2 separate regions of the Homo sapiens genome follow, and region 2 is linked to region 1. The links come from fine-mapping of genetic effects on gene expression. A gene starts in region 1. The other region holds a variant in brackets. All regions are shown on one strand. Distances are from middle to middle. Region 1 holds the start of CERK (ceramide kinase). Region 2 overlaps CERK (ceramide kinase).

The links. PIP is the estimated chance that this variant, and not a neighbour inherited with it, causes the effect.
Region 2: its variant is fine-mapped to the expression of CERK in whole blood (TOPMed, PIP above 0.99).

What each region holds. Positions count from the first base shown.
Region 1 is chr22:46,735,722-46,740,103 of GRCh38, reverse strand. It overlaps CERK (ceramide kinase), which reads left to right and starts at 1,852. Exons shown (of 13, transcript NM_022766.6): 1 at 1,852-2,097. The coding sequence starts at 1,956. It overlaps LOC105373077 (a long non-coding RNA gene), which reads left to right and starts at 3,712. Exons shown (of 2, transcript XR_001755593.2): 1 at 3,712-3,801. RefSeq lists enhancers at 1,010-1,339, 713-1,371, 2,610-2,779, 3,467-4,040 and a silencer at 1,500-2,459.
Region 2 is chr22:46,684,069-46,688,450 of GRCh38, reverse strand. CERK (ceramide kinase) reads left to right here. Exons shown (of 13, transcript NM_022766.6): 13 at 1,245-4,041. The coding sequence ends at 1,317. Among named protein-coding and RNA genes, the nearest start is that of CERK, 52 kb to the left of the region's middle. RefSeq lists a silencer at 1,845-2,139. The variant G/A (reference allele first, on the strand shown) is at 1,903.

The DNA of each region.
Region 1 (4,382 bases):
CTGCACCCAGCTAATTTTTGTATTTTTAGTAGAGACAGGGTTTCACCATGTTGACCAGGATGGTCTCCAATGCCTGACTTCAGGTGATCCACCCGCTTCAGCCTCCCAAAGTGCTGGGATTACAGGTGTGAGCCACAGAGCCCGGTCAACATTTCCTCTTCTTGTAAGGACGCGCTGGATGAGGGCCCACCCTAACAGCCTCATTGAATCTCCTGTGTGTTTTGTAACTGATGTTGCTGTCTCCCCCAACGGAGCTCCTTCGGGGCCTAAGCACTTCTGAGTCGTCTCTGGGCCCCCACCTCTGGCTGCAGGATTTTAAGCCAAGGCGTGCAGCCGGGGGACAGCAACGTGAATACGCCGGGAGGGGCACGGGGAGCCTAAGCACAGGGAGGCCCAGGGAAGGGGTCCCCAGTAGGGACGCTGGTGCTCTCGGGCCCCTGCCCATGCCACCCTTGCCTGCCAACCCTCTTCGCATGCAGCGGCACCCTCCTGCCACTGGCATGAGCTTTTCTTTCCAAGTAAGTTTCAGATCCACATTTCCCAGGCCTCAGAGCGGCAGCTGAGGGAGGGAGGAGGCTGGGCAGGCCTCGCTGCTGCACACCCCACTGTGTGCCACGATCAGGTACTGCCTGCTAGGACTCTGACTGGGCCCACGGTGGCTGCAGGACTGTCCTGGGGCCTTCACTGCATGGCCTGAACAGGGGCTGGGCTCCCAGGGAGGAATGATTCATGGCTGGTTCCCGCCCTATAGACAAGACAGTCACAAGGAGCTGGCAGGGTAAGACCTGTATATGCTGCCACCTGGTGCCAGGCACAGCAGCAAGGCCACGTGGACCTAGCCCACCTCACCTCTGCCTGCAGCAGCAGGGCTGGGTAGGGGAGCCGAGGGGAGGGGCAGGCCTCAGACCTCAGTGTCACATCCAGGCAGTGTCAGTGTGAGCCTAGGCTCTGCCACACTGGAGCCCTGTGCTCTTGGGCAAGTGACTTAACCTCTGTGAGCACAGTCTTCACTGATAAATCAGGGAGGGATGTGCCCTCCGAACCAGGTTGTGGCTGCTTCCTATGGGGCTGTGTTAAGCACTGCGGACGCAGAGACTGGAGCTTGCATGAAGGCGCACGGCGTGCTCTGAAGGCAGGGCTGGAGTCCCTGCAGGCTGGTGATTCCTTCAGCTGTGGGGTCAAGGAGGCCTTCCTGGGGAGGCGGTGAATTGGGGCCACAGGGGCCGTGTCTCTCCAAGTCTGGGGCCCAGGCTCCGGTTCCTAGGGCCAGCTCGGGGGCGGCTGCTCAGCTGTCTGCTCTGTGGCTTCAGGCCCCAGAGCAGTTCAAAGGGCCAGCGCCCCCGCCCCCTAAAAAGACCTCCGCCTCCTGAAAGCCTTACCTGCCTGTCGGGGCCCAGCTGCAGGCCCCCTCCCAGGCCGACAGGACGCCAGGATCGTAGAGGGCACCCGCCGCCCAAGGTCACGTCGCCCGTGGCGCCCCCATCCAGGCCCGCCCCCCGCCGCGCCCGATCGCCAGGACTGCGTTTCCACGCCGCCCGGACCCCGCCTGAACCGAGGCCCGCGCGGAAGGCGCCACTGAGTCCCGGCCGGCCGCGGGAGCGCCAGATTCAGCACCCGGCACCCGCCGGAGAAGAGAGGAGAGAAAGGCAGCCGCCTCCCGGCCCCAGCGCCCTGGCCTCGGCCAGCCCCATCCCGGCCCCTTCCTCCTCCCTCTTCTCCCCTTCTCGGGTCCCCCCGTCTCTCCCTGGCTCCCGGCCCCTCCTCTACCCACGCCTCCTCCTCGCCCCCGCCCCGCCCGTCCCCTCCGCGGTCCCCGCCGCCCGCGTACGGGGTGACGCAGCGCCGCCTCCCGCCGCCCGCCGCCCGCCGCCCGGGCCACTGCAGGGGCCGCTAACGGTCCGGCGCCCCTCGGCGTCCGCGCGCCCCCAGCCTGGCGGACGAGCCCGGCGGCGGAGATGGGGGCGACGGGGGCGGCGGAGCCGCTGCAATCCGTGCTGTGGGTGAAGCAGCAGCGCTGCGCCGTGAGCCTGGAGCCCGCGCGGGCTCTGCTGCGCTGGTGGCGGAGCCCGGGGCCCGGAGCCGGCGCCCCCGGCGCGGGTGAGTGTCGCCGCCGCCCGGGTTCGGCCGGACCTGGCCAGGGAGCGGGGGCGGCTTGGGGGACCCGGCTGGGGGGACCGGGTGCAGGGAGCGAGCGGCTGTGGTAAGGCCGGGGGCCCTGGGAGCGCAGGCGCCAGGGAGGGGTCGGGGCAGGCGGGAGGGAGGCCGGGGCCAGGGGCCGGGCTGTGCGCCGCCGTCTGCTCCGGGAACCCGAGGACAAAGCGCCGCGCAGTGGAGGGGAGGCCGGCGCCCCATCCCCGCGGGGAGGTGGGACCCGGGGCGCGGGGTCGTGGCCCCCGGTGCGGTCTGTCCGCAGGGCACCTCTGGACAAGACGGACTGTGGATGGATCCCGAGGGGGGGTGCCAGGCGCTCCCCACCGCGCGCATTGCAGTTTACTCCAAGAACAGATGCTTTTCTTTAGCAGGGATCCGAAACCTGAGAGGCGCCCTTGCAGGGTGAGGACTTCCTGTTAAGAAGTTAAAGAAGGGGCCCCTGACTTTCTGTGGGGTGTGCTCCCTGCTCGGGATGGGGGAATTGGTTTCCGTGCCACGGGTTGGCTACTTGCCCCGCAGAGGCCCTCCGGATGAGGAGAAGAGTGACTTTGGTAAACATGGAGGACGCATAGCCCACCCTGGAGAGAGCCCTGCAGGAGGACAGAGGGTTTGTTTTTGTTTTTTGTTGTTTTTTGTTTGTTTTTTGTTTTTTTTTTTTTTTGAGTCGGAGTGTTGCTCTGTTGCCCAGGCTGGAGTTCAATGCCACGATCTTGGCTCACTGCACCTCCGCCTCCTGGGTTCAAGCAATTCTCCCTGCCTCAGCCTCGGAGTAGCTGGGATTACAGGAGCCCGCTACTACGCCCGGCTAATTTTTGTATTTTAGTAGAGACAGGGTTTCACCATGTTGGCCAGGCTGGTCTTGAATTCCTGACCTCAGGTGATCTGCCCACCTCAGCCTCTCAAAGTGCTGGGATTACAGGTGTGAGCAACCGCACCCAGCCTTTTTTCTTTTTAATTATTGGGGTGGGTGTGGCAGAGGCCAGGATTCATGCTGGATGTGCGGAGCTGGAATGGGGTGGGTGTGGCGGAGGCCAAGATTCTCTGGTGGATATTCGGAGCCTGGGATGACACCTTTAGACCCTGTGGGCAGTCGAGGTCAGGAGTTCTTCTGGGCGCTTTCTGGTGCTGAGTGGTGAGGATCTGTGGGTTGGGTTCTGGTGGGGACAGAGTTGAACGTTAGGTGGGGCCAAGGTCGAGGGGTGGTCTCAGACCCATGACCAACACTTGGTTTCCAGCCCTGGGGTCACCTATCTGTGGCTGGGCATCTGAGACTTGACTTTCCTAAGGTATTTCTCATGTCCCCTTTGGTAGAAATGTCACACCCCAAATATCACCCACCAGGGCCCACACACAAGGAGAACAGGTGCCTGACCTGGGCCCGAAGGGTTTGTACTTTGTTGTAAATCCCTAGGCTTCAGGAAGATGACTGCCTCCCCCAAGCACTTCCTAAGTGCGGGCCACTGGGCTTCAAACCGGATGGGTTCCTGAGAGGCAGCTGCTCCCGTCCTAGGGATGCAGGGGCCGATCTGCAGGGGCTGGAAGTGACTGGCCCAATTAGCTGCTGTGCTTGTAGCCACTGGGCTGTAAGGCTTCCCTCAGGCTCCAGCCGCCGCAGAGACGCCAGACCCTTACAGGGCATCTGTGTGGGAGGTCAGTCATCACTGCTTTCTGCCTTGGCGTCCCCAGCCAGCTCCCATTATGGTTTCTGGTCCCCCAGGTCAGGGCTTGGTGTGGTGTGGCGTCTGCTTTTGTCCAGCCTGCTGGGGTTTGCCTCTTGGCATGCTAATTGCTTCACTCTTGCTAAGCCAAGGTGCTTTTGTGCGGGTTCATCCTGAGCTGCCTGACTGGCCTGCCAGGAGCTTGGTCCCTCTTGGAGAGGGAGGGCCCTGGTTTGTGGGGCCATGGATGGTGGGGCCCTGGCTGGTGGCCCTGGCTGGTGGGCTTCCTCCAGGAAGCAGCCTGCCCTCTCCACCCAGGAGTGCTCTCCCATGCAATGGGAAAACATCAACAAGTTGGGAAACGCTAAGTTGTGAATGAGTTCAGGAATACAGCCACACTGTCTCTAGTTTTTTTCTCATAGCTTTACAGTCCCCAAAAGGAATCAGGCCCAGGTTCGATTCTTCTATGCTTGAGGTCAGTAGGGCCATAGTAGGGCAGAAGAATGTGAACCAGCTCACAGGACATTTAATTTGGTCAGCAAGGTGGCATTGCCCAGCCCTCCCCATTCCCCC
Region 2 (4,382 bases), 52 kb after region 1:
CGTGCACAGGGACTTTCCTCTGTCAACTCATTTGACAAGTTTGGGAAGTGGGATTATTTTTAATATTGGTGTATGTATTTATTAAAGAAATAGAATAATTTGAAAATCAGGACAGGCATTCTTGAAATACGTCCTGTCTATCTTGATAAATATGGCTATGCCTTGAGCAGCACGTCGCTTTTAAAAATATAATTTGTGTGTGTGTGAGCTCAGCTCCATGGAAACAGCCTGTCACTTATTTATTTCTATTTTTTTATTTTTTGAGACAGAGTTTTGCTCTTGTTGCCCAGGCTGGAGTGCAATGGCGAGGTCTCGGCTCACTGCAACCTCTGCCTCCCAGGTTCAAGCAATTCTCCTGCCTCAGCCTCCCAAGTAGCAGGCGCCCGCCACCACACCTGGCTAATTTTTATATTTTTAGTAGAGACGGGGTTTCACCATGTTGGCCAGGCTGGTCTCAAACTCCTGACCTCAGGTGATCCGCCCGCCTGGACCTCCCAAAGTGCTGGGATTATAGGCGTGAGTCACTGTGCCCTGCCCCAGCCTGTCACTTAATGAAGGGGTTTAGGTTACTGAAATACGTCTGAGGAGGCTGTGATATCATTAATAAATGAGATAAATAGAGCTGTCCTGTGTGGGAAGATGGCACTCACCCACGGACTCACTGTGGCCACCGAGCCCCTGGGCAGGGGACCTCCAGGGACCCCCAACTTGTTCCTCAAGCCCGAAGGCTCTTGCTGGCGTTGGGCCACCTGTCCTTCTCATCTGAGCATTCCTCACACATCTCTTACACGCATTGAGTCGCCCCGCACAGACTCCTCGCAGGCCTTGCGCGCTCAGTACTGCTGAGAAAATGGAGGTGGGTGGGTGGGTGGAGTGGGCAGACACTGGAGCGGACGCTCTGCTTTCCATGGGGGTGCTGGAGTTCGAGTCAGGTCTACCGATGCCCAGATTTCCCACCTGGCCATTGGCAACCCCTTTACAAACTCGGCATCCCGGGAGTCTAAGTGAATTATTCCACGCCCAGGGCCCGTCATTGTGGGCTGGACTCCTACAGCCCACGGTGACGTCTGACCGTTCCATGGGGGATGGACCCCCACTTCAGCCCCTGTCCAAGAGCGGTGCTCAGGGCCAGCTTTGAGTGAGGGACACGTGGGGTTTACTGCAGCCCCTGTCCAGGAGTGGGGCTCAGGCCAGCTTTGAGTGAGGGACACGTGGGGTTTACACGTGGCCGCTTGTCTCTGCAGAGTCCACTGCCAGCTGGTTCGACTCTTTGCACGAGGAATTGAAGAGAATCCGAAGCCAGACTCACACAGCTGAGAAGCCGGCGTCCTGCTCACAAACTGGGAAAGTGTGAAAACTATTTAAGATAATTATTACAGACCAATTATGTTGATATATACATTTAAATGTAGAAATTTATTTTTGATAGTTAAATCTTGATTTTAGAAGAAAACCCTTTTGTCAACAATTTTGTGTACATATTTGGCATTTTCAGTTCTGTACGCATCTGCGGGTTGCAGCCCACGCCGCTTACTCTCAGCGGATGCAGCTGCTCACTTGGGGGCACTGGCCTCTTAGGTTTTAACGATGTCAACAGTGTAGTTTAGAAAATGGCCCGTTAGTGGCTCTATTGCAATAATGTTAGGGACATTATATGATTTCCACGCAGGTCACACCATCTGGGCCTGAGGTAGCAGTGGGTCACTTTGATCCACTTTGCAGGACTTATTCTGTAACGGTTTGTGGCCAAGTTTTGGGAAGTGGTTGATTCTCTTTGCCTTCATTTCACCTTCCTCTTCGTTTACGGTTAGGACATCGCTGCTTGATCCTTACAATACTGTGCAACTGCAATGCAACGTGGCCCTGCTTCAGGTGATCCGCGGGAGGGGCCTCCACGCCAGC[G/A]CCGGGAAGGCTGCTGGGGCCTCCACACCTGCCTCATCACGGCGGCGAGGCTACGACAATCCGGCTGGGAGCATGACCTTGGCGTCTGTTCTGGGAGCACGGATGATAAGCTCTGGAAGCTGGCAGTGTGTAAAGCACTGGCAAGTTTGTTACTGTTAAAATGTCAAATACCAATGCTTTATATCGACGCGAAGTGCTTAACACAGCCGGGCTTGGGGGCAGTCAGGAGGAAGCTGGCCATCCGTGGAGGAGGGGCCGGTCCTGGACTCCCGCAGGACTCCTCTGAGGCAGGGCCTGAAGTCTGTACACGTGGTCCAGATTTGTCCTTGTCTTTTCTTCACACTGAGTTCTCTATATTTATTGAACATCTTGTCCTTTTAAGCCAGAGTAGTGTAAACTGCGTCTCGGATGTCTGTCTTTTGCCTCGAAGCCACGATGGATCGCTGGTTTCCTCTGCAGCGCGAGGGCTCCGGCGACCAGAGGATTCTTCCCGGAAGGCATTCCTGCCGCGCTCCCCGGGGCACCCCTCAATTGTGTACTACGTCCTTGTTTAGTGTGTATCCGTGCCCACGTAGATGATGTCTGTAACGTAGTTTTGTTTGAAATATGAGAATATGCGGCTTAAACTTTGATCTGTAAGGAGCGGGGCCGTGGCCGTTTGGAGCACGCTGTAGACACCGTTCCTCATGCTGCCGGGTGGGTTTTGCAGAAGCTCCCTTAGTGATTTCATGTTTAACAGGCAGCATCCATTTTCAGAATTTCCTGGCATTGATTTATATTTTGAAGCATACAGGAAACTTCTCGTTTCCTCGTTTAGCCCCACCCAGATCAGGTGAAAGGGCAGCTTTAATGGTGGTTTTTATGGACCACATTATCAGAGAGCACTGTGCAAGCCAAATGGTTCAATAATGAATGAAAATTCTGGGTGTAAAGAGTAAATATGCCCTGGCTCTTTCTACCAATGTTTGCTCCTGGTTGGAAAGAAACCAAAGATTTAAGACGGGCTGCTCTTCCAGACTGGCTGTGCCTGCCTGTGCCCAGCAACCTGTGCAGCCGGCAGTGTGCCTGGTGTCACGCCAGGAGGCTGTGGCTGCTGTGGGCCCTCTGGAATTGTGCTCCTCACAAAGTTTCCCCAAAAGGTTCTTCTAAGCCTTTATTGTCCCTGGTAAATGTTTCCCGGCTGGGCGCGGTGGCTCACGCCTGTAATCCCAGCACTTTGGGAGGCCGAGGCGGGTGGATCACCTAAGGTCAGGAGTTTGAGATCAGCCTGCCCAACATGGTGAAACCTCGTCTCTACTAAAAATACACAACTTAGCCAGTCTTGTTGGCGCACGCCTGTAATCTCAGCTACTAGGGATGCTGAGGCAGGAGAATCGCTTGAACCCAAGAAAGAGGTGGAGGTTGCGGTGAGCCAAGATTGCGCCACTGCACTCCAGCCTGGGCAAACAGAGGGAGACTCCATCGCCCCCCCCAACAAAAAAAAAAGTTTCCCATACACTGGCCTGCCCCAAAACCCACTAACAATTTTAGCAAAACAGTCCAGGCCAAAGAGGAAGCATTTCATGTTCAATAAGAAACCCAGCCATTCCGCATGGCTGGTTCCTGAGTGGCTCTGGTGATACTCTCCAGCCACCTGCTGACATTCAGAATCTCAGACCTCGGGACTGCTGTTGCGGTACCGTGTGTCTGACACCTGCCAGCAGCCCTTTGCTATCTGCGCGCAGGATGGGGGTGACTGCCCAGACATTCCCGCTAGATAGGCTCTGATTTCCGGGGCAGCCTTTCAGATGCGGCAGACATACAACACCTGTACTTTAGAGTTTTAAGGGAAAAAAAATCAGAAGTGCTGGTTAGATAGTAAAAACTTAGGATAACTTAGAAAGGCTAGTTTTAGCTTCCTTTGTGGCTCCCTGGTGCAAAACAATTAGCAGTTATGCAATGGACCTGATTCTAGTTTATTCTAATTAAGAAGTGAGGCCGAGTTTGACTTCGTTCCTGAATACAATCTTGAGTAACTGGGAAAGTCTGAGTGAAAGGATGGCCTCATTCTCTTTCTAATCTTGCTGGTTTCAAGATTAGAAAATGGCATTATTTGATCTGAAATGTTTGAGAAGACACGAATAAAGTTACTTGGGCAGACTTGGCTTGCTTTCTTTCCTTTACACATACCTGTTATTTTCAAAGCAGAATATTTTTCATGAAAACACACACAATTTAAAGAACAAGAATAAAATGAAGCAAGGTGTCACCACCACCTATGCCAGGCAACTGAACGCCGCCCCGAAGCCTTCTGTGCCCTGCTCTGGAGTCCCCCCGCTCCCCCTGGGAGGGCGCTACGAGGTCACGCCAAGCGCATCCCTTCCTGCCTCTGTCCATGGCTGTATCTGCAACAGCGAGTTTAGTTTTGCAGGTTTTGCTCCTTATCCAAAGGAAACGTGTTGTTTTCTGTAACTTGCTTCTTTCACTCCACATGTCTATTT